7 linked regions of the Homo sapiens genome follow. The protein of the gene in region 2 purifies or fractionates together with the protein of the main gene of each other region. This does not show direct contact. Each region holds a gene or a part of one and is shown on either strand. Other genes may lie near its edges. The genes, in order: CUEDC1, CORO2B, PRKG1, PPP1R9A, ARPC1A, RANBP10 and MYO6.

Evidence for each region.
Region 1: the proteins of CORO2B (region 2) and CUEDC1 purify together in Homo sapiens (co-immunoprecipitation; one large-scale study listed by IntAct). This does not show direct contact.
Region 3: the proteins of CORO2B (region 2) and PRKG1 purify together in Homo sapiens (affinity purification with mass spectrometry; 2 studies listed by BioGRID and IntAct, with this or other methods). This does not show direct contact.
Region 4: the proteins of CORO2B (region 2) and PPP1R9A purify together in Homo sapiens (co-immunoprecipitation; one large-scale study listed by IntAct). This does not show direct contact.
Region 5: the proteins of CORO2B (region 2) and ARPC1A purify together in Homo sapiens (co-immunoprecipitation; one large-scale study listed by IntAct). This does not show direct contact.
Region 6: the proteins of CORO2B (region 2) and RANBP10 purify together in Homo sapiens (co-immunoprecipitation; one large-scale study listed by IntAct). This does not show direct contact.
Region 7: the proteins of CORO2B (region 2) and MYO6 purify together in Homo sapiens (co-immunoprecipitation; one large-scale study listed by IntAct). This does not show direct contact.

Annotation. Positions count from the first base shown.
Region 1 is NC_000017.11:57,882,413-57,885,912, forward strand, and holds part of CUEDC1 (CUE domain-containing protein 1), read right to left. Parts: intron 3,468-3,500; 5' UTR 3,153-3,467; coding exon 2,817-3,152; exon of another isoform or gene 2,760-2,816; intron 1-2,759.
Region 2 is NC_000015.10:68,585,493-68,588,992, forward strand, and holds part of CORO2B (coronin-2B), read left to right. Parts: intron 1-3,500. UniProt on the Homo sapiens protein: May play a role in the reorganization of neuronal actin structure.
Region 3 is NC_000010.11:52,270,987-52,274,486, reverse strand, and holds part of PRKG1 (cGMP-dependent protein kinase 1), read right to left. Parts: intron 3,138-3,500; coding exon 2,998-3,137; intron 2,096-2,997; coding exon 2,006-2,095; intron 1-2,005. UniProt on the Homo sapiens protein: Serine/threonine protein kinase that acts as a key mediator of the nitric oxide (NO)/cGMP signaling pathway. GMP binding activates PRKG1, which phosphorylates serines and threonines on many cellular proteins.
Region 4 is NC_000007.14:95,288,594-95,292,093, reverse strand, and holds part of PPP1R9A (neurabin-1), read right to left. Parts: coding exon 3,376-3,500; intron 2,004-3,375; coding exon 1,791-2,003; 3' UTR 1-1,790. UniProt on the Homo sapiens protein: Binds to actin filaments (F-actin) and shows cross-linking activity. Binds along the sides of the F-actin. May be involved in neurite formation. Inhibits protein phosphatase 1-alpha activity.
Region 5 is NC_000007.14:99,346,398-99,349,897, reverse strand, and holds part of ARPC1A (actin-related protein 2/3 complex subunit 1A), read right to left. Parts: intron 1,047-3,500; coding exon 939-1,046; intron 1-938. UniProt on the Homo sapiens protein: Probably functions as a component of the Arp2/3 complex which is involved in regulation of actin polymerization and together with an activating nucleation-promoting factor (NPF) mediates the formation of branched actin networks.
Region 6 is NC_000016.10:67,730,061-67,733,560, forward strand, and holds part of RANBP10 (ran-binding protein 10), read right to left. Parts: intron 1,525-3,500; coding exon 1,412-1,524; intron 1-1,411. UniProt on the Homo sapiens protein: May act as an adapter protein to couple membrane receptors to intracellular signaling pathways.
Region 7 is NC_000006.12:75,752,239-75,755,738, reverse strand, and holds part of MYO6 (unconventional myosin-VI), read right to left. Parts: intron 1-3,500. UniProt on the Homo sapiens protein: Myosins are actin-based motor molecules with ATPase activity. Unconventional myosins serve in intracellular movements. Myosin 6 is a reverse-direction motor protein that moves towards the minus-end of actin filaments.

The sequences.
Region 1 (3,500 bases), on a different chromosome or scaffold from region 2:
GGGGGTGGTGAAGCCTTGCAGAGGTCTATAGGACTGTGGGGGCCATGGACAAAGGAGAAAATACTACCCTACCTGCCAGACTGTCAGGGCAAATCAGACTGCAGAAAGGGTCAGAGCTTGCAGAGAGCTTTCCTTCCAGTTCACACTTAAAGCATATACAGTTGACTCTCAAATAACAAGAGTTTGAACTGCGTGGGTCCACTTATAGGTAGATTTTCTTCCACCTCCACCACCCCTGAGACAGCAAAACCAACCCCTCCTGTCCCTCCTCCTCAGCCTACTCAATGTGAGAAGATGAGGATGAAGCCCTTTACGATGATCTACTTCCACTTAATGAGTAGAAAATATATTTTGTCTTGCTTATGATTTTCTTAACATTTTCTTGTCTCTAGCTTACTTTATTGTAGGAATACAGTATATGATACATACAACACACAAAATATATGTTAGTCGACTGTTTATGTTAAGGCTTGAGTTAAGGCTTGAGGTCAACGATAGGCTATTAGCAGTCAATTTCTGGGAAAATCAAAAGTTATATTAAAAAGTGGATTTTTGACTGCAAGGGGAGGATTCACTGCCCCTAACCCCTGCATTGTTCAATGGTCAACTGTATCTGCAGACACACACATACATACGCATACTCTCACTCTCTCTCTCTCCTTCTTTCTACAAAGAGGATCCATATTTTCCAATATTCCTTCCACCACCTACTCCAAGCAGATCAAAGGAGTGGTCTCCCAAGGAGAGAGACAATAGAAAACTGTACAAAGACAGCAGCAACACGTACTCATTCAACAAACACTCCCTGAGTGCTTGCTATGTGCGTGGATTGTCCTGGGTGCTGCAGATGACACAGGGATGAGCCAGATGTCTTGGCCAACAGAGCTTTTCCACCTCTAGGGGAAGTCTCAGCAGCACCCACTAAGGAGGAAAAGCAAGGAGACTTTGCCCTGCAGGATGGCTGATGAACAAGGGTAATAATAATGCCACAGCACAAAGTTTGTGAGGATTAGAAGAGATGACACATCGGGCCAGGTGCAGTGGCTCATGCCTGTAATCCCAATACTTTGGGAGGCCGAGGCGGGCAGATCACCTGAGGTCAGGAGTTCGAGACCAGCCTGGCCAACATGGTGAAACCCCATCTCTACTAAAACTACAAAATTAGCCGGTCATGATGGCACATGCATGTAGTCCCAGCTACTCGAGAGGCTGAGGCAGGAGAATCGCTTGAACCTGGGAGGTGGAGGTTGCAGTGAACCAAGATCGCGCCATTGCACTCCAGCCTGGGCGACAGAGCAAGACTCTGTCTCAAAAAAACAAAAAAACAAACAAAAAAAGAAGATATGATACATCTAAAGCACTTAGGATGATGCCTGGCACGGGTCGGGACTCAATAAAGAGTGGAGTTAAATCCTGCTGGGTCCTGGTCTTGTCCATGGCTGCATGTCCCAGATGGCCCTGTGGACAACACCCCTCTGATTAACAGGCTCTGTGTGCCTCATCCTTCTGCACCAAGCACCTCAGGCTCTGCTGATACTGGGTGGCCAGATGTCCACTGAACTCGGGTGGGACTGGAAAGGACTCACAACCTCCAGCAGGTGGGTACTGATGCAGTACGCAGGTCCCCTCTCTCCAGCCACTTCCCTGGAGAGACTGCTTGGCTATGGCTCACTACTGTTTCCATCAGGCCACAGTCAGAGGGATTTAACTGGCAAGTCTGATTCCTCACTCCCTTTCCGTGGCTATGCTCCCAGGATACAGCCGCACTCTTTTTCTTTTCTTTTTTTTTTTTTTTTTTTTTTTGAGACGGAGCCTTGTTCTGTCACCCAGGCTGGAGTGCAGTGGCATGATCTCGGCTCACTGCAACCTCTGCCTCCCGGGTTCAGGCGATTCTCCTGCCTCAGCCTCCCGAGTAGCTGGGACTACAGGTGCGCACCACCACGCCTGGCTAATTTTTGTATTTTTAGTAGAGATGGGGTTTCACCATATTGGCCAGGCTGGTCTCGAACTCCTGAACTCATGATCCACCTGCCTCGGCCTCCCAAAGTGCTGGGATTACAGGCATGAGCCACCTCGCCCGGCCCCAGCCGCACTCTTTTTCTCAGCGTCAGGGCTTTGTCAACCTCATTGATCTCCTCTCACTCTAGGACCCTGACAGATGGTCCTGCTGCCAGTTCCCTAGCCAGTGAGGCACTATTTCACCTCCCAGACTCTGCACAAGCTGTTCCCTTTGCCTGCACACCCTTCCCCCGGCTTCACTCTTCCTTTGGGTCTCAGCTTAGGGTTTCGGCTTAGCCATCGCTTCCTCTGGGAAGTCACTCCTTTCTGCTGCTTCCACGTCTCCATCGAGCACTTACCACTCTGGCCGTCAGTACCCGACTCGCGCTTCTAGTCCACACTGGACTGTGAGCTCCAGGAGGGCAGAAATTTGGTCTGACTTGGCCACTAGCGGACTCTACGCCTGATGTGGAGTTCAGTATGTTGGGGTGGGGCCCAGGCACCTGCATTTTTAACAAGCACCTTGATTCTGATGCCTCCTGACTCAGGGTCTAGTGCCACGTCTCGCACACCACTGAGTGGGCGCTCAGTGTTTGTTGAATGACTGCATGATTTCTGCCCATAAAATAAGGTGACTGACGGATGGTACTTTTCCCTAGGGGAAGTAAGGCTGCTTGCTAATTAGAACCCAGATAGCGGAGTAACCCAGGTCCTCTTAGAGGTTCCAGTGGTGGTTGGAATTACCCGGGCCGTGCCCCTACCTCCGGGGGGATGCTGTCCTCCAGTGGTGGTTGGAATTACCCGGGCTGCGCCCCTACCTCCGGGGGGATGCTGTCCTCCGAGTCGGAGCTGTCCTCATAGACGCCGCCGCTGCTGCCACCGCCCTCCAGGTTCATCTGCAGCAGCTGGTCGATGGTGGCGTCCACAGCGCCGCTGTTGGCGCGCAGCACGCATTCGATGATGTCGTAATCCATGTTGGGGAACATGGTCTTGAAGTCGTCCATGGCCTGGTTGAACTCCAGGCGGCGCACCTGGCGGGCAGGCCGGCTGTTGTTGAGCTCCTGGGGGGCGGCCGTGCCTCCCCCGCCCCCGCGTGCCCCGGCGGTGCCACCCCCGCCGCTGCCGCTGCTGCTCCGGCGGAACAGGCTGGTCATTTTGCGGAGCCGCTTGGGGAAAATGTTTCTAGCCGGCCGCAAAGCCCCTTCCCCAGGGTCTTTCCGCCGTCAGCCGCTTACTTGCCCTGCGGTCTCGGGCAGCTCACTCCTGCGCCTCCTCCTCCCCGGGTAGCCAGGCAGCAATGGGCTGCCAAGAGCTCCGGGTTAGGAGAGTACGGGCGCGGGGCCCCAGGCAGCCCTTGGAGAGCGGTCCTCGCGGGGCGGTGGCATGCGGGACCGGGCCGTGCTGGGGCTGGGCGGCCGGTCATCCACACCCCCGGTGCATCCTGGCACCGGTTTCACGGATGGTCCCACCTGAAACCGAAAGAGATGGAGTCAGGGCCGAGG
Region 2 (3,500 bases):
AGAGTAGGTGAACGGCTCAAGGTCACAGGTTGAATGAATGGGTGGGGAGCAGGGATTTGTACCTGGGCTGTCTGACTCCAGAGAACACTTTCATCTCACTTCCAGGCCTTTGGTCCTGGGGCATGATCGTACTCTGCTTCCACTCCCCACCAACCCCCCACCTACAACACAGTGGGCTATTGTCTGTTGTGTTTGTGGCCCTGCCACTGAGGATGTGCAGGACAAATGCTGGTTGCCTTGAGGGTGATGCCCATGGTTGTGTCCTGCTTAGATTTGCCTGTGGTCTTTACTGGAGCTAGGAGTCATGTAAATGATTCGGGGAAGGGTGCTGGGGGAGGAGGGTGTCCTATACATGGTGTTTGACATCAGATTGGGCTGCTTGGGTAGGGCATTCAGCCGAGGGCAGAACAAAGTATGACAGAGGCAGAGCCGCCTTCTCCATTTCCATGAGGCTAGCTTGGTTCAGAGAACGCAGGTCCCTGGTCCAGGCCTGCAGCCCTTACGAAGCAGCCTTTTCTCGAGTTAGCCCCTGATGATTTGGGGTTCCACTGGCTAGGAATGCTGGCTTTGAAGTCAAACACATGGCAGTCTGTCATTTACTTGCTGTGTATTCTTGGGCAAGTTGCCTCACCTCTCTGAACATCTGTTTCCTCATCCATTCATTGGGATTGATAATAGTAACAATCCTTTACTATTAAGGATTGTTATTAAGATAAAGTGAGCCGATCCATGTGAAGCACTTACCATATGCCTGACATGTAGTGTTAGCTGTTATTCTCAGGAAGACAGAAAATTAATGAGTGTCCTGGGGCTTATGAAATGAGCAGTACAGGGAACTCTGGGAATAGCAGGGGGCCTGACCTAGTCAGAGGGATGAGGAAGTGACTTTAAGTTGAGTCATGAAGGATGAGTAGGAGGTAGCAGGTGAAAGGAGGGGAGCTGAGGAGGGAGCAACAGGCCGGGGATGAATGGGCAAACGTCAGGAGTCAAAAGCCACGGACCTTGATCACTTCCTGCATGCTGGACATTGATGAGAGCATGGTACAAGTATCCACTCATTTAATCCTCAGAGTGACATCATGGCATAGGTTACTGTTATCATCCCTGCTTTACAGATAAGGACACAGGCACAGAGAAGCTAAGTCACCTGTAAAAGGTGGCCCAGTGAGGCAGGATGAGGCTGGTCCAGACCCGGACCTCCGGATTCTGGCCTCTTTCCTTCCCGCTGCCTGCTGCTTGGTGATAGGGAGGGTGGCCTGACCCTGGCTGCTTCTAAAACTGACCCAGGCAAGGGGGTGTGGAAGTGCCAAGTTCAGTTGCCTACCCCGATGCCTCACGGAGCCTCCTTGGGCTGTGTAAAGTGGCCAGAGGCCCTCCTGGCTCTCAGGCAGGAGGGAGAAGTCATTTATTTTTCCAAAAGGAAACTTTGCTCTGGCAGGAAATTTTCCACCTTATATTTTTAGTGGGCTCAATTATGACCATTTTTGTTCTTTAAATCTTTCTTATTATCTATATTGGGCCTTGGTCTTTAAAGTCAAACTATAGGGAGATATGTATACACACACACACACACACACACACACACACACACACACACACACACAATTTTTTTCTAAAGTGTTAAAAGTCCACACCAATAGTCCCAGCTACTCAGGAGGCTGAGGCAGGAGATCATCCTGGGCAACGTAGTGAGACCCCATCTCTAAAACAAACAAACAAAAAAAACCCCCTAAGTGTCTGCAGTTTGGTGTCTGCTCTGTCCGAGCTCAGAGAAGGTGGATGTTTTACATGGTGTTCATGCCACAGGCTTAAACTTACTGTCCCCTGTATGAGATAAGTGTCAACACCCCTGGAGGCTCTGGCTGCCCAGAGCGGTGGTGTGTGGAGGCTCACCCTGGGTAGGTGCTCATGCTAATTGCTGGGAAGCCTCCATGATCAGTATTTAACTCCGGAGATGTCTGAGGTCATCTGGGCCAGCACTCTGCCTGTACGGCACTCTACACTTTTTAGGAATATCACAATGATTCCTAATTTTAATTTAGATTCGTTTAAGAAATACCAATTTAATAGTAGTCAGTTCTCAGCCTTTCACCAGGTGCTAGGCCCCTGCTTTCAAGGGACCAACAGACAATAACAATAACAATAATAATAGAAGCGGCTAACCCTTCCGGAGCACTTAGTTTATGCCAAGCATATACAATATGTTTTATATGTATTAATTCATTTAAGCTTCATGACAGCCTATGAAGTCTGTGCTATTATTATCCCCCTTTCTATGGTTGCAGAAATGGAGGTCCAGGGAAGGAAGGGAGGTAACTTTTACAGTGTTCCCACAGCCAGTCAGGGACTCAGCCTGCCTCGCAGGCCTTCTGTCTTGCCACTTTGTCAGGCTGGTGGGAATGACCCGGAAATATGTGGTCCAGAGCATGGGACCTGGAGGCAGAAGACCCAGGCCTCGCTCTTGCCTCTGCTCCTTACTGTGTGACCTTGGGCTAGTCCCTGGATGTCTCTGAGCGTCTGTGAAAATGAAGTTAGTAGTCTATCTCTGTAGGGTGCTCTAATATTTAAGTAACATGGAAAGATGTAAATAAGGTGCTTTGTAGATGTCATGGCAGGAAATGGTTTATTGTGATGTCTAATCTGTGCCCACTCCTTTCCTCTTCCTCACCAGTATTTCAAGGCCCTCAGATTTAGGCAGTTCCTTCCAATAGCTAGCCCACTTCTCCCCTGCTGTAGTCCTTATTTCAGAATTGATTCATACTCTGTGGGTGGAAGAGAAAAGTTCATCTCTTCCAAACAGCCTCTATCTGTTTTTACTCTGTCAGGCTAGTTTGGTGCAGATGAAAAGTTGCTTTTCTCTCTTCCTGTTCTGTCTATTTTGGCTGTTTTAATATGCTTGGGACAAATAATCTGGCTATAAAAATGTGGTGTCCTGCTTTCATTTGAAAAGTGAGCCAAATAAAGCATCCAAACCTTGATCTGTATTATCCCGGCTCTCTGTAGATCAGAGCTCCCTGTGGAAGGCGAGGGAAGGTGGGTCCCAGAGCACAGTCCTACCTGGGTCCCTGGGCAGAAAGACCAGGTTCCCACTGTCAAATGACCTTGATCTTTGCTCCAGATACCTCCCGATGCCCCCAGCGCTCAGACCTGCTTTTCCTTTAGGTTTATGGAAAGGAATAGCCTCTACTAGCTTGAGGCATTTGCAGCAAATCATTTAAACACCTTGAGTTTGATTTCAGAACTAACAGTTTTATAATCTGGAATCTGGTAGAATCCAGGACGTGGAACGGCTGATGGAAAGAAAGGTGTTGGTGGAAGGGGACAAAGGGATTTAATTCCTGAGGATTTTTATTTAACTCCTGAAAAATTGCTGGTTATGCCTGCCCTGCTGACCTCCAGGTGAAAGACCAGCTTGCAAAAATGCATGGGGAAATTTGGGATTCCGAGAAATTTGGAATTCTGGGAAAGGGGATTTCTGCATACCTGAGTGGCCAACTGAT
Region 3 (3,500 bases), on a different chromosome or scaffold from region 2:
GATGGAATACTACACAGCCATAAAAAGGAATGAATTAACAGCATTTGCAGGGAACTGGATGAAATTGGAGACTATTATTCTAAATGAAGTAATTCAAGAATGGAAAACCAAACATCACATGTTCTCACTGATATGTGGGAGCTAAGCTATGAGGATACAAAGGCATACGAATGATGCAATGGGCTTTGGGGATTTGGGGGGAAGAGTCGGAGGGGGGTGAGGGATAGAAGACTACAAATATGGTGCAGTACATACTGCTTGCGTGATGGGTACACCAAAATCTCACAAATCACCACTAAAGAACTTACTCGTAACCAAATATGACCTGTACCCCAATAACTTATGAAAAAATAAAAAAATAATAAGCTATAAGAGGGATAGCTGGGCTCTCCCTTTGTGGCTTATTATTGCTTTCATGTTTAATTCCACCTGTAAATCTTCTTCTATTCTAATTAGAAAAAAAAGTAGAAGACTTCAAATAAATCAGTGAATTGAAATATCAAGTCAAATATAATACAGTAGAAACACATTAGATATGCCAAATGTTAACTCACAGATTAAAATATTAACTTTGTGCCACAAACTATACATTCTGAGGAGAGAGACCCCATCTGTTTTGTTTATTACTGGATCCCCAGCCTCTATCACAATGCCTGGTATATAATCTCTATGTACATATTAACTAGCAATAATACATAATATATACACTATGATATAATAGCTTAGTATAGATGTTAACCTTATCGCCTAATGCCAACATGATTACATTCCCTTTTATGCTTTTTTAACCTTAAATTTAAGAATTGAAATAAAATACCGATGCAATAGGATACAATGTGGTAACAAGAAATCCATTTGGCATATATAAGAAAGGCCATGGGAATAACACGAAAGGGCCTGTTGTACAAAGATATGAAGGTACCATAAGAACACCATTAGGAATGAGAATTTAAATCAACAGTTCATAAGGAACCACTTGTTTTATTCTGGGGTATCTGCAAAGTAACAAATATAAAAACATTACATGGTTATATACATCAGGGCTACCTATAGCTAAGTTTCAGAAGGATGCTACCCTGTGAAGGAGAGTCTGGGAGGCAGGACTCAAACAAATAAGAAAAATACAGATGTCTAAATGTGAGTGTTCAAAAGAACAAAGATGACTTTTGTATGATCAATAAATCATTCATGGAAAATAATCAAAAGATTATTCATAGGAAAATAAAAGTGTGTTTTTAAAAAAACACAGGGTAGATAATGATCTCCTGAGACATTTTATAGGATAAATTATATTAGAAGATAATTAGATAATTTGCTAGTTATCTAAATATGAGATGGAAAATTAAGACAATGAATTTGCATGATTAGAACAAACAAGCACCATGTAGACAAACTTTCCTTGCCCTGGAAGGGTAAGAAGGTAAATCTAAATCAGATAATTTACATGAAATATTGCTTATAAGTGGATTCTTTTCTTTTTCCTAAGACTAGCCAAGGGATAAAGAGATGGCTGGAAACTTTTGTTAATTTTGAAACCAAAGAGCCATGTAAAGGTAGAGGGAAAAATTACTTTGGAAAAAATTCACAATGTCACAAAAGGCAAACTGCCTATCTGGAAAAAGAGTAGAGCAATTAAACTGATAGTTAATTCAAATTATAATTATAAAATAACTATAATTCTCTTTCTGCTAAAGCAATGAATTGAATTCCAGCTACAGAGCTAATTCTAACATTCATGCAAAACTAAGGCCATGTATATATTTTGCTATGTACCATTTTTATGATCGACTAAGCCTGTATTGTTAGTTACAAAGTGAGTTTTGTTATATGTACAGTAAATCATATGTGTATAGTGGGTTATGCCCTGTGCTTACTTTAAATATTGAAATATAAGCATGTGTAAATTATAAATATGATTATTATACTTTATCATATTAACTCTTCTTATAGACCAACATGGGCAACTGTTTTTAGAGATATCATAGAAATTTCTTAAATCTCCTACCTATCCCTGAGAATGGTCCAGAGCTCTCCACCTAGACAAGCTTCCATCAACATATACAAATATTTGCTGTCCTTAAATGTTCTGTACAGTCTGTAAATTGCAAACAAGAAAACAAAGATTATAAACATTACTGTCTTTTACAAGTGTGCAATTTTGGGGGGCCCAGATTATAGTTTTGATTTGCCAAGCTCAAAATTTTGTCAGAATGAGAGAGATCTAAGCCCACACATGGGGAAAAGAAGCCAATGGCTCATGAATAGGATTTTAATAGAAGAAACTAAGGCGCTAATCTCTCCCTTGAAATGGATTAATCATAATGATTATGGACAAAGAGGGTTTCTTGGGATTCTTTCCATTCCAATTTGGGTAATGTTTTGAGCATAGACCCTTGGGGCAACATTTAGTGGTCATCAACATGCAGTGAAAATGGGAATAAAGTGGATTAAACTTTACAGATTCAGACATGTATAAATTTCATATGCTATTCGCTCAAATTCATGTTACATCTTGTTTTCAGTAAATGCCACTGGAAAATTCACTACAAAAAGCTGCTTCCACATATAAAAATCTCCCCATTATCCATTTATTAGTACTGAGGTGGAATGGTCAGCTGTCATTTCATTTTTTTAGATCTTCAAAAAATATTCAGATAATTAAAGGTTAAATAGTTTGATTTTGGATATTTTGTCTTTTAAGCATCAAAGGTCTATGTAGAGTTTGGGGATTTAAAAAAAGATAAAAATGGAATGTTAGAAACTCTGGTACCTCCTTTGGGAAAACACATTGTTTTCAGACACTAATTCTCTTTAAAAGAAAGAATAGAGTCAGAACTTTATTTTTAGAAATCAAACAAAACTTTCTTAAGATTAGATTAAAAAGAAGTTTCTTTGTGCATACGAAATGTGTTAACAGTGAGCACAAGTGGCAGAGGGTTTTGTGGTGGATTTGTCACTTGGAGTTGGGTACGTCTGTCCCTGGCATGGAGCCTTTACCTCACTATGAAATCGGAATGAGCCCCCTGCATGATCTGCTTCTCTGAGCGGATGTGCTCCTGCTGTCTTGTGTCCACAATGTGACGTTTCTTGAGAATCTTCATTGCAAACGTTTTGGATTCTTCACTTTTCAACTGGACCTTAAAGAAAGAGAGAAGAGAGTAAGAAAAAGCCCATAGACTTGTAAGAGTGCATTATTATCCCCAAATTAACAGGTACATGGCGCACTTAAATGAACCTCAGCCACCTCCCAAGTCAAAACACAGTAAATCCTTGGTAGAGCTGCGTTTAACATCCAGGGCTCACAGCTATCATCCAATCTCATGCTCTGAATTGGCTGAATTTTAACTAACTTGATTCCAAATTAATTGTGTTCACGTGTGGATTAGAAGAGGGAAAATGTACTTAGTTCTAGTTTTATTATTTCATGTCATAGAGTGTGTTTGAATACATTTTATAGTTCTTCTGTCAAAAGAGTAGAAAAAAAACTTCTTTTCCAATTT
Region 4 (3,500 bases), on a different chromosome or scaffold from region 2:
ATGTCAACGTTTCTGAGGATTGAATGAAGGGTCTGTACCTAATGACAAAAGAGCTGACGCATAACCGACAATACTCTGGCAATGAAAAGAAAACAGGCCTTGGGGGTAAAACAGAATTAAAAATGTCCAGTTTAGATAATTTCTGAATTCAGATTTTCAGATAAAAAAAAATCACACTGTTATTAAAATACAAGATGGGGCTACAAGGGAGTTCCCTTAATCTGTTACACTCAAAAGCCTTGCCGAGGCTCTAAATATGGAATACTTCTAGTGGAAGATACGAGATGCTGGGAACAGAGCAGAGATTCCCATAAAGTAAAAGAAGTAAAATACTGTCCAAGAATTCATGTGGCCTCAAGTCTTATTCTGAAACTTGTCCTTTGGAAAGTGGATAACCTCATTTTTAGAGTCAACGCAGCAAAGAGAACCAGATACATGAGCATAAAAAACAAAAAACCCTCATCACATGAAATTTCTCAAAACGAGTTTATTTTCTCCTTCTTCTGCCCCAGTCTCCTGCACTTGACTTAGTTTGGTGAAACATGGAAATCCTTAATGCTGGCTTAAAATTAGTATAAGTTCCTCCACTACTAAAGTATACCTATGCACTGCCTTAAACAAACTTTTTCTGTAAAATTGAGAATCTTTGAAGTATGGAAAGGAATGGTTCGGAAAAACCATTCAAAATCTCTCTAAAATGTTAACTGACAGTTTCCTCTAACTGGTATTTCTATTTTTCTTAAAAGTACATTTGTTAAAATACTAACTGAGCCCACCTGGGAAATCTTGAGTAGAAAATATGTGATGAGTTCCTGATTGTGACATAGGCAGGCTGAAGACCAGCCAGAATGTTCCCCAGGAGAGGAAACCTGAAAATGGTGGTTTCCTTAAAAATCAATTTCCTGTTCAATTTCTTGGGTTAGGTAGGGGGAAGAGGAACTGTGTTGTGTTTGCCAGTGTTGCTGAAATGCTGAACACACAGCAGTAGCAAGGTCAACAGATCCCAATATCCCATGGCTGCATTAATGTCTGATTTTTTTCTTTCTTGTTCAGCCGTATCTAGAGGATAAATATTACCCTCAGAACCCCAAGGTAATACCCACATCCACATTCTTAAGGCTTTTGCTTTTTTCAGTGGTTAACAAATAGCTATAATTTATTTTCTTTCTTTTTGATGCCTAGCAAGCAGAATGACTTGCTTGCCTTTTCCCTTAGTAGGTAACTACAGAGCAGAGCACCCATGTTTCCACAGCGGGGTGGTCTCACTGTCCAGACTGAGAATTAAGAGCAAATCTTTCCCACACATTGGAGTAGGTGTTGCAGTCCTAGAAGTTAAGTACTGGTCTCAGATCTCATGGCAGGGTGCTCTCTGCCATGCAGACATGTGCAATTGCCATTTCAGGATCCCACACTGAAAATTCACGGCGCTCCATTAACAACACCAGGGTGTGTCATGCTCTTGGGTGGGGTCACACTAGTTCTCCAAGTGACAAAACACACCCAACACAACACAAGATGTTGGTAAGTTAGAGAAGAGCAAAACACAGCTACTTAAATGAAATCTCTGGTTTGTTAATGAACCAAAGGTGGCTTGGGATTATTTTAGTAGTTAAAATTAAGAGTGCATTCTATTGCAGAAAATGCAGTTATTCAACACACAGTTCCTCAGCCGGCCTAGAGCCGCATTACCCTTATCATTTAGTTTCTTTTTCATCCTCTGGAGGAGAGCAGGGCAGGAAGAGGTGGGGACTTCTCTTGGAGCATCTCCATCATCTGTAAGAGGGTATGTGTTACTGCTCACCAGCACCCTCGGCTGTAGTTGACGTCATCTTTTCTGTCTTTTTGGACTTCCTCTGCATTTGCTCTTGCTCCTTTCTCCTTAGCTTTTCTCTTTGTTTTTCCATTTTCTCTTGGGCCTTCCGAGCCTTCTCTAGAGACATCTTCATTTCCTTGAGTTTCTTTTTGACCACTGCTCGGTCCTGGGATGCTGTCATTCCAAGAGCCTAAGAAAGAAACACACACACAAACTGAATTTGAAAACCAATGAGCCCTCTGATGGTGTTAACATACCATATATCCAAGTTCGTAAACTAATTCAAACATTGAAGAGGTAAGAACAGAGGAAGAACTAGTTACATTTGCTAAAAACCAACACACTGGGGGCTACCCTTTATTTTTTCTTTTGTTCTTTGAAGTCCCTTGCAAAGTATACCCTAAAGCTCATTAATTAAATGCTTTCCAAATGAGTAATTAATGGGTGAATGAATGGAAAAAGGGCACAATTCTACTTCTCCAACCTTTGGGCTGTAGGCATTTACGGGTAAAGGTATTGCTAAACTCATCAATATTTTCAAAGCATAGGAGTGAGCACCTGCTGTCACAGAGGGCTCCAAGAAGGGCAAGAAGAATTGAAATGGCTTCCTTTCTGCCAATGTTTTCATTACAATGAGAACCAAAAATGTCTTTGGGGCCAGAATGCTCGTGTCAGCATGACTAGCCATTCTTTCCCTGTAGGCAGACCTATAAAGGAAGTTGATTATAATGAGGAGGTTGCTCGATGAACTTAGAATTCAGAATAAGGGGAGTTGCTTATGTACTTTAAATGTTTCGTGACCTTCAGAATCAACAGCAGGATGCATCTATCTATCTCCCCAACAGGGACAGCCTTGTCAATGAGGCCTTCATATTCACAAGCTATTGATTGATCTCTAACCTTTTCAAGATTGTCAAGAGATACTCGTCTGCCCGTCAGCCCAGCAGGGGGCTGAGGCGGGGGTGGGGCTTGGGGGTACATGGAGTTGGCTGTAAGCACCTTTTTCCCTTTCCCAAAGGGATGGATGCCACCTTGGTCTCTAAGAGAGATGGACTGGACAAGTGGAAATGAAAGTGCCATGGAGGGGAGGGAAGATGTGTGTACATATTTGGGGAAAAAACTTCTGGGGAGAACATCATCCCAGTTTGGGAGTGGTGTGTAAGGAAGAGTGGAGGTGAAGGAGAAATGAACAAGGAAAAGAAGACTCGTGGATCTGGGTCTTAATTCTAATGTGATGAAAAAGTCCACAGTGGCCATTATTAAAACTCATACTACATCAGATGTAAGGAGAGTTAATATATGGACCATGTGTTGCCAGGTGGAAGCAATGGAGTGGGTCCCTCACTCTCCTAATCAGCAGCCTACCATTTGATTTGGAACCCCTGATGGACTTTCTGAGACTTCATTTACTACTCAGAAAGAATTCAACATCCTTTCTGCTGAATATTGATGAGAATTACCTCTCAGATATGCAGAATGCTCTTACCTAATGAAAACATTTTAGGTGATATGAGTAATACAAATTATACCTGGTAACCTAAGACAGACATATAATTCTTTACCTTAAGTTTATTTCCATCCAACTGCAGGAGCTGTTCTCCAGTGATGTTTTGGGCACTGAATTCAGATACATACTGCTCCAGATTTAGGCTCATTAACCAGTGAGAAACCTGCTGCACACTCCATT
Region 5 (3,500 bases), on a different chromosome or scaffold from region 2:
CTGGGATTACAGGCATTTGTGACCACACCAGGCTAACTTTTATTTATTTATTTATTTTGAGACAGAGTCTCGCTCTGTCGCCCAGGCTGGAGTGCAGTGGTGTGATCTCGGCTCACTGCAAGCTCCGCCTCCCGAGTTCACACCATTCTCCTGCCTCAGCCTCCCGAGTAGCTGGGACTACAGGCACCCGCCACCACGCCCGGCTAATTTTTTGTATTTTTTTAGTAGAGACGGGGTTTCACTGTGTTAGCCAGGATGGTCTCGATCTCCTGACCTTGTGATCCGCCCACCTCAGCCTCCCAAAGTGCTGGGATTACGGGCGTGAGCTACTGCGCCCGGCCTCTTTTGTATTTTTAGTAGACACGGGGTTTCACCATGTTGGCCAAGTTGGTCTTGAACTTCCAACCTCAGGTGATCCGCCCACCTCAGCCTCCCAAAGTGCTGGGATTACAGGTGTGAGCCACAGCACCAGGCCTCATTTTTGAGTCCCTCACAGTGCCTAGCGCAGTACCTTGCAAAGAAAAGGAAACTTACAGGCCAGGCACACTGGCTCATGCCTGTAATCCCAGCACTTCAGGAGGCCAAGGAGGGAGGATCACTTGAGGCCAGGAGTTCAAGACCAACCTGGGCAATGTAGCAAGACCCCGTCTCTACAAAGAATAAAGACAATTTTAAAAAAATTAGCCAGGTGTGGTGGCATATACCTGTAGTCCCAACTACTCTGGAGGCTGAGGCTGGAGGATCGCTTGAGCCCAGGAATTGGAGGCTGCAGTGAGCTATGATGGTGCCACTGCACTCCAGCCTGGGTGAGAGTGAGACCCTGTCTCAAAACAACAACAACCACAACAAAACAAAAAACAAAGAAAGAGAACCTAAAATTATTTGTTGAAGGATGAAGAATGCACGGCTCAAGTTTATCAGTTCTCACTGGTTCCCACCTGCATTTGAAGTCACATGATCCTGCTGCCAGCAAAACGTTGTTGGGATGCCAATCCAAGCTGAGGACTGTGGAGCGAATCGGCTTTTTAATGTGCTTGCTCACCCACCTATGAGAGGGGAAAACTGTTTCAGTTTATCCACTCAACCAGCATCCCCAAATGACCTACAAATGTATGTCAGGTGAAAATACCTAAGTAGGCCACACTTTTCCTTAATTTAAAAAAAAATTATAAAACAATTCAGAATATTATTTTTTTCAGAATAAACTTTTTCAGATAGGTTTCTATAAAAAAAGATTCTATAGAAAAGTAACAGAGCATTCAACGTTCTTCTGTCGGTCACCAGGCCTTCTGCCAGAGACAAGGTTTTTTGATACCAGGTTATGATCTGAGACTGGCTAATTTTTGTATTTTTTGTAGAGATGAGATTTCTCCATGTTGCCCAGGCTGGTCTCAAACTCTGGGGCTCAAGTGATCTACCGGCCTCAGCCTCCCAAAGTGCTGGGATTACAGGCATGAGCCACTACGCCCAGCTGACAAGGTGCATTGCTAAAGGACAGAAAGGAAAAGAACCATGAACAGGCCTTCTCCACTCCTGGCCCTGATGTTCTCAGCACAACAGCTGGTTTTCAGCAGTCCTCATTAGTAAGCATAGATATTGATTAACTCAGTTATGTTTTCGTGAGATTTCGGATTACATAGGACGTTAACCTCTGAGATAAAAACTGAAGTTTGAAAATACTTCAATTTTTATTATGAATATTCAGTGATTTGCTGAATTTTTGGTGAATTTGGGGTTGTAAGACAGCTTAATATCCTTCCCAAGTCTCCACGAATCTGCAAATTCTTTTTAATTTCTTTCACTGAAAAATCACAACCAAGAAATTAGAAGAACCTCATGTTGGGGATTAGCCTCTAATTCGCTAGCACCATCCAAAAAAGATGATTTATGTCTAGGACCAGTCAGTATTTTGGCTTAACTAATTCATTTCTGCCCCCAAACTGCTGTTTAAAAACCAATCACGTCTGGTTGCTCAACAGTTGGGAGACTAAATATTGAGCCAATGCCTTTCCTTCAATGCTAAATTACCTTTCTATAGAATCACTTTCTTTCTTTTTTTTTTTTTTTTGAGATGGAGTTTCGCTCTTGTTGTCCAGGCTGGAGTGCAATGGCGTGATCTCAGCTCACCGCAACCTCCACCTCCCGGGGTCAAGCAAGAATCACTTTCTTTTATTTATTTATTTTTTATTTTTTTGAGACAGAGTCTTACTCTGTCATCCAGGCTGGAGTGCAGTGGCGCAATGTCAGCTCACTGCAACCTCTGCCTCCTGTGTTCAAGCAATTCTTGTGCCTCAGCCTCCCGATAGCTGGGATTATAGGCTCACGCCACCACGCCCGGCTAATTTTTGTAATTTTAGAGGAGATTAGCTTTCACCATGTTGGCCAGGCTGGTCTCAAACTCCTGGTCTCAGGTGATCTGCCTGCCTTAGCCTCCCAAAGTGCTAGGATTACAGGCATGAGCCACCACGCCTGGCTACAGAATCACTTTCTTAGTATCCTGTCTGAAGAAGTTCATTCTGAAAAAGACAGCCAGGTGCAGAGGCTTGCAACTATACTCCCAGCACTTTGGAAGACCAAAGCAGAAGGATTGCTTGAGTACAGGAATTTGAGATCAGCCTGGGCAAGAAAAGTGAGAACCTGTCTCCACAAGTAATCAAAAAATTAGCCAGGTGTGGTGGTGCAAACCTGTAGTCCCAACTACTTGGGAGGCTGAAGTGGCAAGACTGCTGGATCCCAGGAGTTGGAGACTGCAGTGAGCCGTGTTTGTACCACTGTACTCCAGACTGGGTGACAGAGAGAAACCCTGTCTCAAAAAATAAATAAATAAATAAAATAAAAAACCAAAATCCCCCACAAAGTCTCTAAAAAAGGAGAAAAAGACAGTATTTCGAATTGTTTCATAATGTATACATATTTTTTGAGACAGAGTCTTGCTCTGTTGCCCAGGCTGGAGTGCAGTGGCATGGTCTCGGCTCATTGCAACCTCTACCTCCCTGGTTCAAGCGATTCTCCTGCCTCAGACTCCCAAGTAGCTGGGATTATAGGCATGCACCACCACACCTGGCTAATATTTTGTATTTTTAGTAGAGATGGGGTTTCTCCATGTTGGCCAGGATGGTTTCGAACTCTTGACTTCGTGATCCGCCTGCCTTGGCCTCGCAAAGTGCTGGGATTGCAGGCGTGAGCTACCGTGCCTGGCCTTTATAATGTAATTTTTTTAATTAAGGAAAAGATGGCAAGCAAAATAATTAGTTCATATGGCTGAATTATAAACTTCTGAGAAGTTGTTTTAAAGTACTCCTATGAAATATGAAATAATTGTTCTACAGCTGAGAAACTGCCCTAAACATACAGCTTGTTCAAAGACAATACCTTGTACCATAATAAAGTCCAATTTACCTATACTTGACACTAATTCTCAACGAATAAAAATGTAAACAATTACTGAGGTTGAAGCTTAACTTGGAAGAAAAGTTTCCTGTAGAAATTTGTAAGATTGC
Region 6 (3,500 bases), on a different chromosome or scaffold from region 2:
AACACAGCAGTGAGCGAGGGCTACAGGCCTCTCCCACAGCCACACACCTGGGATGCTGCCAGCCTCAGGGTAGGGTCCGGCTCAGAGTGCCTCGCCAGCTTGAAATGCTCACAGGAGAGGAGGCTGGAGAAAGAACCTGACTGCCCAGCCCAACAGATCCTGGTTTCTGCCAAGTGTCAGAGAGTCCTCAAGAATATGGGGAAGATGGAGGGGAGACTCTCAGCCCAAAGGCAGGAGGGTAAATGTGGAGGTCTGCTCCTGCGGGGCACATGGTGCCAGGGACCTGGGGGCAGGGTAGGGCCCCAGCTGGGGCAACATGATCTGGGGATGGGCACCCAGGCAGCTTGGCGGCCTGAGTGGCTCCTCTTCAGACAGACTCCTCTCCTTCCAGGCCTCACAGGGGAATGGCAATGGAATCACACTGGTTTCTGACCAGGGCTCTGGCTGGTGGTCTTCAGGGGCTGCAGCATGCCCCCTGCTGGGAGAGGAGGCCATCCTCCTCATGCTGGCACCTCTGATGTTGACACCTCTCACGCCATCAGCATCTTGCTGCTGCCTTTTCGCTCTTGCCGTGGGGCCTGGTGCATCTCGCTGGGAGCAACTTCAGAGTCTGAGGCTCTCATTCATAGATCCCAAGTCTGGGATCCCTTTCCGTCTGTCTGGCTGAGCACAGCTTCTCTGGGAGACAGACACGTGCACATACAGAAGAGACAGCAGGCTTGGAGAGGGGTAGGCAGGCACTCACAGACACGCATATCCACACCCACTTGCCCTCATTCTCCTTTTCTCCTTCTAGCTCCTCACTGGGCTCCTTTTCCTCTTTTCCAACACCCCTCCTTCCGTGAAAGAGCCTCCAGACACACAGCATCCAGGCCAGCATCAACACTGGGAGAGCTCTGGCCAAGGGAGGACTTTAGGTTGTCTGCAAAGGGCAGGACCAGTGGTGGGGAGCAGAGGGTAGTGCCCCCACAGCAGCCATTGAGCACTGGCTTTGCCCTATCTGACCACTTCAGTCCCCTCTCTGGCTAGGAATAAGCAGAACTACTAAGGCAGGCAAACAGCCTTCCTGGAAGACCATGAACAGGAGGTTGAGAGGAATCCAGGATTCAGGGGGAAGGAAACAAGCAGGGAGGAAATGGAGGAATGGAACCAGCCATGCCAGGGCCTGGCCTGCGCCCAGCCTTCAGAATGTGCATTAGGGAGGCTGCCCTGAGACGTCTCCATCCTGCCAACTGTCCATCTGGGCAGTGCCATCTTGAAGGTGGGACAGGAACATGGCCTCGAGCTGCAAGCTGGTCATGAGGACCAGAGCTGAATGGACTCCTGACAGGTTAACCAGGGTTGACATGAGCCAGAGAGCAGAGTTAGGGACAGGTGAGGAAGGGAAAGGGGAAAGTAGAATAAACCTTACTTTGTCTGTTCTTTATGGACGCCTGTTCTTCCTGAATCGGGGTTTCAGTCATTCGAGCAAAAGCCGTGGCTGTGGCACAATACCCATGATGCACGAGGTAAGATGAAACCATGCTAGAAGAAAGGAAGAGCTTCAGGTGACACTCAAGAACTGCACTTCTCACTGACTACCCAATGGACTCAGGACAGATTACCTCCCCCAGAGGTCTCCCTAAACACGTCCTGGAGGTGTAACCTCCACAGAATGAGAATAAAGGGGCTGAAACAAAATGAAAACTTCCCCCATGGTGCCCCACGGTCATGAAGTCAGGCTTCGGAGGGGCTGGTCACCACATCTGTGCCCACAGTTCAGAGGAGTGGCTGCAGTTTATCTGAGACATGCTGCCCACAAGTAAGCGAGTATGATAACAGAAGTACACACACAGGCACACTCCTCACAGGTGGCTGCCTCTTTGGGAAATGCAGCAAGCCTAAGAGGCCAATAGTCTCACTGATAGCTTCCCGAAACTGCAGCTAGCCAGGTAATCTGGCAGATTTCCAGACAGGATGCATGCCACATGCACACCTTCTACAGACACAGGAGCCCCTCTGCAGGCTGTGCCATGTACCTGAGAGAAGCATTTCAGCCCTCCAGGTGAACCTGCCCTCAGCAGTTCCAGCTCTAGTGAGTGAGTGATGGGAAGCTAACTCACAACCCAGAGTTACACCATGATACACCACAAATCAGGGGCCCAAGAAGCCAAGCAATCAGGCTGATTTTGCCAGGCAGAGATAGGCAGCAGCAGGGCCAATGGGAACACAGTCATTGGGAAATGGTCTGGAGAAGTCTGACTCCCTGTAGCCATTTAACCCCAGCAGAAGCTGGCTGAACAGTGGCACATGTGTGTACACATATAAAGCAGAGGCTGAACCCTCAAATCTGATGTGTACAGGAGTGAATACCTTGGTGTGTACATGTGTCTGATGTCATTACTGTAACTCTAAACACAAATGTCTGAAGGGTTGTCAGGTGGAAGGCACAGAAGTTTGGGTGTGTGTTCCCTCAAGCTTTAAGGGGTAAATGAGATAATACACATAAAGTACCTGGCAGGAAGAAGTCCATAAATAAGACTTCTTATTATGAAATGATATATTACATAATATTATAGTATAAATAATAATTATCAGCTGGGCGTGATGGCTCATGACTGTCATCCCAGAACTTTGGGAGGACAAGGCGGGAGGATCACTTGAGGCCAGGAGTTCAAGACCAGCCTGGCCAACATTGCAAGATCTCATCTCTACTTTAAAAATATGGCCAGGCGTGGTGGCTCATGCCTGTAATCCCAGCACTTTGGGAGGCTGAGGCGGGCGGATCACAAGGTCAGGAGATCAAGACCATCCTGGCTAATGCGGTGGAATGCCATCTCTACTAAAAAAATACAAAAAAAAATTACGCCCGGGCGTAGTGGCGGGCACCTGTAGTCCCAGCTACTCAGGAGGCTGAGGCAGGAGAATGGCTTGAACCCAGGAGGCGGAGCTTGCAGTGAGCCGAGATTGCGCCACTGCACTACAGCCTGGGCGACAAAGCGAGACTCCATCTCAAAAAAAAAAAAAAAAAAAAAAAATTATTGGCTGCGTGTGGTGGCTCATGCCTGTAATCTCAACACTTTGGGAGGCCGAGGCAGGAAAATCACTTGAGCCCAGAAGTTTGAGACCAACCTGGGCAACATGGCGAAACCCTGTCCCCACAAAAAATACAAAAAATTAGCCAGGTGTGGTGGTGCATGCCTACAGTCCCAGCTACTCAGGAGACTGAGGTAGAAGAATTGCTTGAGCTCAGGAGGTCCATGCTGCAGTGAGCCATGACTGTGTCACTGCACTCCGCCTGGGCAATAGAGTAAACTCCTGACTCAGAAAAAAGTAAAGTAAGTATAATTATTATTATTACACCATATTATTATTATAAACACAAGGGTAAATATGAAAAAGTCTTTATCTACAAGAGGGTTACCTACACAAGTAAAAGAGAAGGAATTACCTGACCTTCCACTAGAGGAAGCCAGCCAAAAGGCTTGTGACAAATTTGTCTCTGTGATAACATAGCCATT
Region 7 (3,500 bases), on a different chromosome or scaffold from region 2:
AATAAATGAAGACATAAAGGAACCAACACAGACGCACACACAGTTCTTTAGTGAGTCTTTACAAAGACAGTTGTAACTATCGGATCACTACCAATGCACAAAGTAATAAAAGTTATTTTCAAAATTCCCCCAGAACATTTTTCTCCTTCCTTTTTTTAACTAATTGTTCTTTAAAAATTCTCCAACTAGAAAAGCTAATTACCAATTTCAGTCTAGCAATCTATTTAAAATGTTAAAGTAGTTCCATAATGATGCATCATGCTCATCTTCTATCTTCCATTAAAAAATAACCTGTAACAATTTAATAATCACCATTTTAGTGACCCTAATTTTTCAGAACTTCCTGAACCACCTGACTTGAAGCCATAATGTGAGGTTAAATACATAAGCAATAGGGGGAAAGTGGAGGACTTACTACTTTGGGACTACACAGAGATGATGCTTCTAAGTAGCCACATTGACCTTGAACAAGTTACTTAATTTTAAGTAATGTATTTATTTATTTAGAGACGGGATCTTGCTCTGTCACCCAGACTGGAGTGCAGTGGTGCAATCACAGCTCACTGCAGCCTTGACCTCTTGGGCTCAGGAGATCCTCCAACCTCAGCCTCCTACACAGCTAGCACTATAGGCGTGCACCACCACACCCAGCTAATTTTTGTATAATATTTTTTGTGAAAGGGTTTCACCATGTTGCCCAGGCTGTTCTCAAACTCCTGGGCTAAAGTGATCCTCCCAACCTCAGCCTCCCAAAGTGCTGGGATTACCGGCATGAGCCACCACATGCAGCCAGTATTTTTAATTTTTTGAGTCTCCATTTCCTTACCTGTAGAAAAGGAATAAATTTACTAAATCTACTTCATCAAGTTGTTTTAAGGACCAAATGCATACAAAAATATTTTAAAGCAATAAAATGCCATCCAAATATAAGTTATTAGCTTTTGACGTATATGTCTTTGGATTTCAAATGGATGGTTTCTATTTATTTTTTCATATCTCTGCAACTCTTCCTATTTCCTGGATCCAAAGATATGCCAGCACAGGGAGGAATCAGTTCACACTTGTCATATCTAAAACACAGTGGGCCCTCAGTAAATATCTGTTGAAAAAGATGTTCATCCACATAGATCAGAAATCAAAAAATTCTGCCACAGAAAATATATTACCTTGTAAAGGTTAGTCAGCGGCTTACTTTTTTTTTTTTTTTTTTTTTTTTTTTGAGACGGAGTCTCACTCAATCGTCCAGGCTGGACTGCAGTGGCCCAATCTCAGTGCACTGCAACTTCCACCTGCCAGGTTCAAGTGATTCTCATGCCTTGGCCTCCCAAGTAGCTGGGATTACAGGCACCCACCACCACACCCAGCTAATTTTTGTATTTTTAGTAGAGATGGGGTTTCACCACATTGCCCAGGCTGGTCTGAACTCCTGACCTCAGGTGATCCACCCACCTTGGCCTCCCAAAATGCTGTGATTACAGGTGTGAGCCACCACGCCCCAGCCAGGTTATTTTCAAATGAAATAACAAATGACCTAACATACTCAAAAGATGACTGTGTTTTTGTCAAGAGTTTCCTTTGTGCACATTACTCAGCATCATATTTACCCCATGTGAATATACACTGAAGGAATGTGCTTTGGTGTTTTGGTTTCACTTGAGACATGCCTTCTGTATAAAAAATTATTTCCTCTCTCTTTAGCACCAGCAAGATTTCTAAAGATGCCAGATTTCTTCTTTAGGTTTTACTTTTTATGCTTCAGTACTCACAGGGAAAACTTTTGGTGGACTTATGGTCATTTCTCAAACCATTATGTCATTCTTACACTAATCAATAAGAAAAATAAGCTAATTTTTGAAAACAGTAACTAGAAAGACGTTGCAAAATATTTAAAGATTCTAGTCCACTCAAATTTGTCAAATAAAATCAGAACCATTTTAAATGAAAAGATCCTGGTTCCTCTGAACATTATATAATGCCGGCAAGGCACGGTAGCTCATGCCTGTAATCCCAGTACTTTGGGAGCCCGAGGCAGCACACTATCTGAGCTCAGGAGTTCAAGACCAGCCTGGGCAACATGGCAAAACCCCTCTCCACCAGAAACACAAAAAAGTTAGCCAGGCATGGTGACATACACCTGTGGTCCCAGCTACTCCGGAGACTGAGGTGGGAGTGTCACTTGAGCCTGGGAGATGGAGGTTGCAGTAAGCCGAGATCATGCCACTGCATGTGGCATGAATGAGACTCTGTCTCCAAAAAACATATATATATATATATATATATATACACACACACACACATATATAGATCATAGATACATGCATATAGATATAATGCCTCCAAAAGAGAACTTAAGCTTATTTAACTCTACTTCTTGATGTGTGTGTCACAGATCTATTACCAATTTATATTAGTAATATTACTAATTTATATTAGGTGGTGGTTTTGTATTTACAGTTGAATATGAATATCCTTGAGATGCACAATTCCTAATAGTTCAAAGCAAATAATGAAAAAAATCCGTAATGGTAGCCACCCAACTCAGCCTTCCTACCTTGCTTCTGCTCATTTACCCAACTACATCCTACTGCTGAAATGCATGATTCCTAGTTTGTTACCAGAAAAAATGGGCTTATTTGCTCACTGTTGTCATTTATGTCTATTGCGGCTCAAGGGATATTCCACAGACCATAGAAAAGATTTGTACTAATAGTTTCTAAGTGACAATTTAATCATAATCTAAAAACGAGTCCCCCCTCTCAAGATTAGAGAATTAATTATGTAATATTTAAAGGATAGCTACTGCATAAATAATTATCTTTTTCATTAGAGGAAAATTTTAAAGTTCTATCCCAACCAGGAACATTACAATCTAATTCTAGTTCTCACAAACCTATCAAAGTTAAACACATACATATGTTTAACAGCATACATACATGCACAATACATATAATGTCCTAGAACTATACGAGAAATGAGAAAGCAGCAGCATCAGTGTTCAAGGCTGTCAACTTGAGAATGAAGACACAAACACAGGATTCTAAATTTGTTCCAGAACTACATTCACGGCCTATCATATCTACTCCTGGATGCTTTTGTCAAACCTTGAATTACATTCTTTGACATAATACCAGTTTTGCCGGTTTAAACAGTCCACCAAGTGAACTGAAACCAAGGCAAACTGTTCTGGTGGAAAAAACAGGGGCTTCGTGGTCAAATGACTCAGGTGTGAATCCAGACTTTGCCCTTCTGGAGCAAGCATTTAATTCTTTGAGACTAGACTCCCTCATCTGTAAAAGGACAAGACCATTAGCCTAGAAAATTATTTTGTAGATCAAGCCCCTCAATCTGTGATCTGTCCAATTATGGAAGATGCCTAATAAATGTGCAACAATCTTATACTAGTAAAGGGCCAGTTCACAAATTATTATGAAATATCTCATTATGGGTATCATAATTAAACTCTATGAAACTGCAATCCCAGCACTTTGGGAGGCCAAGGC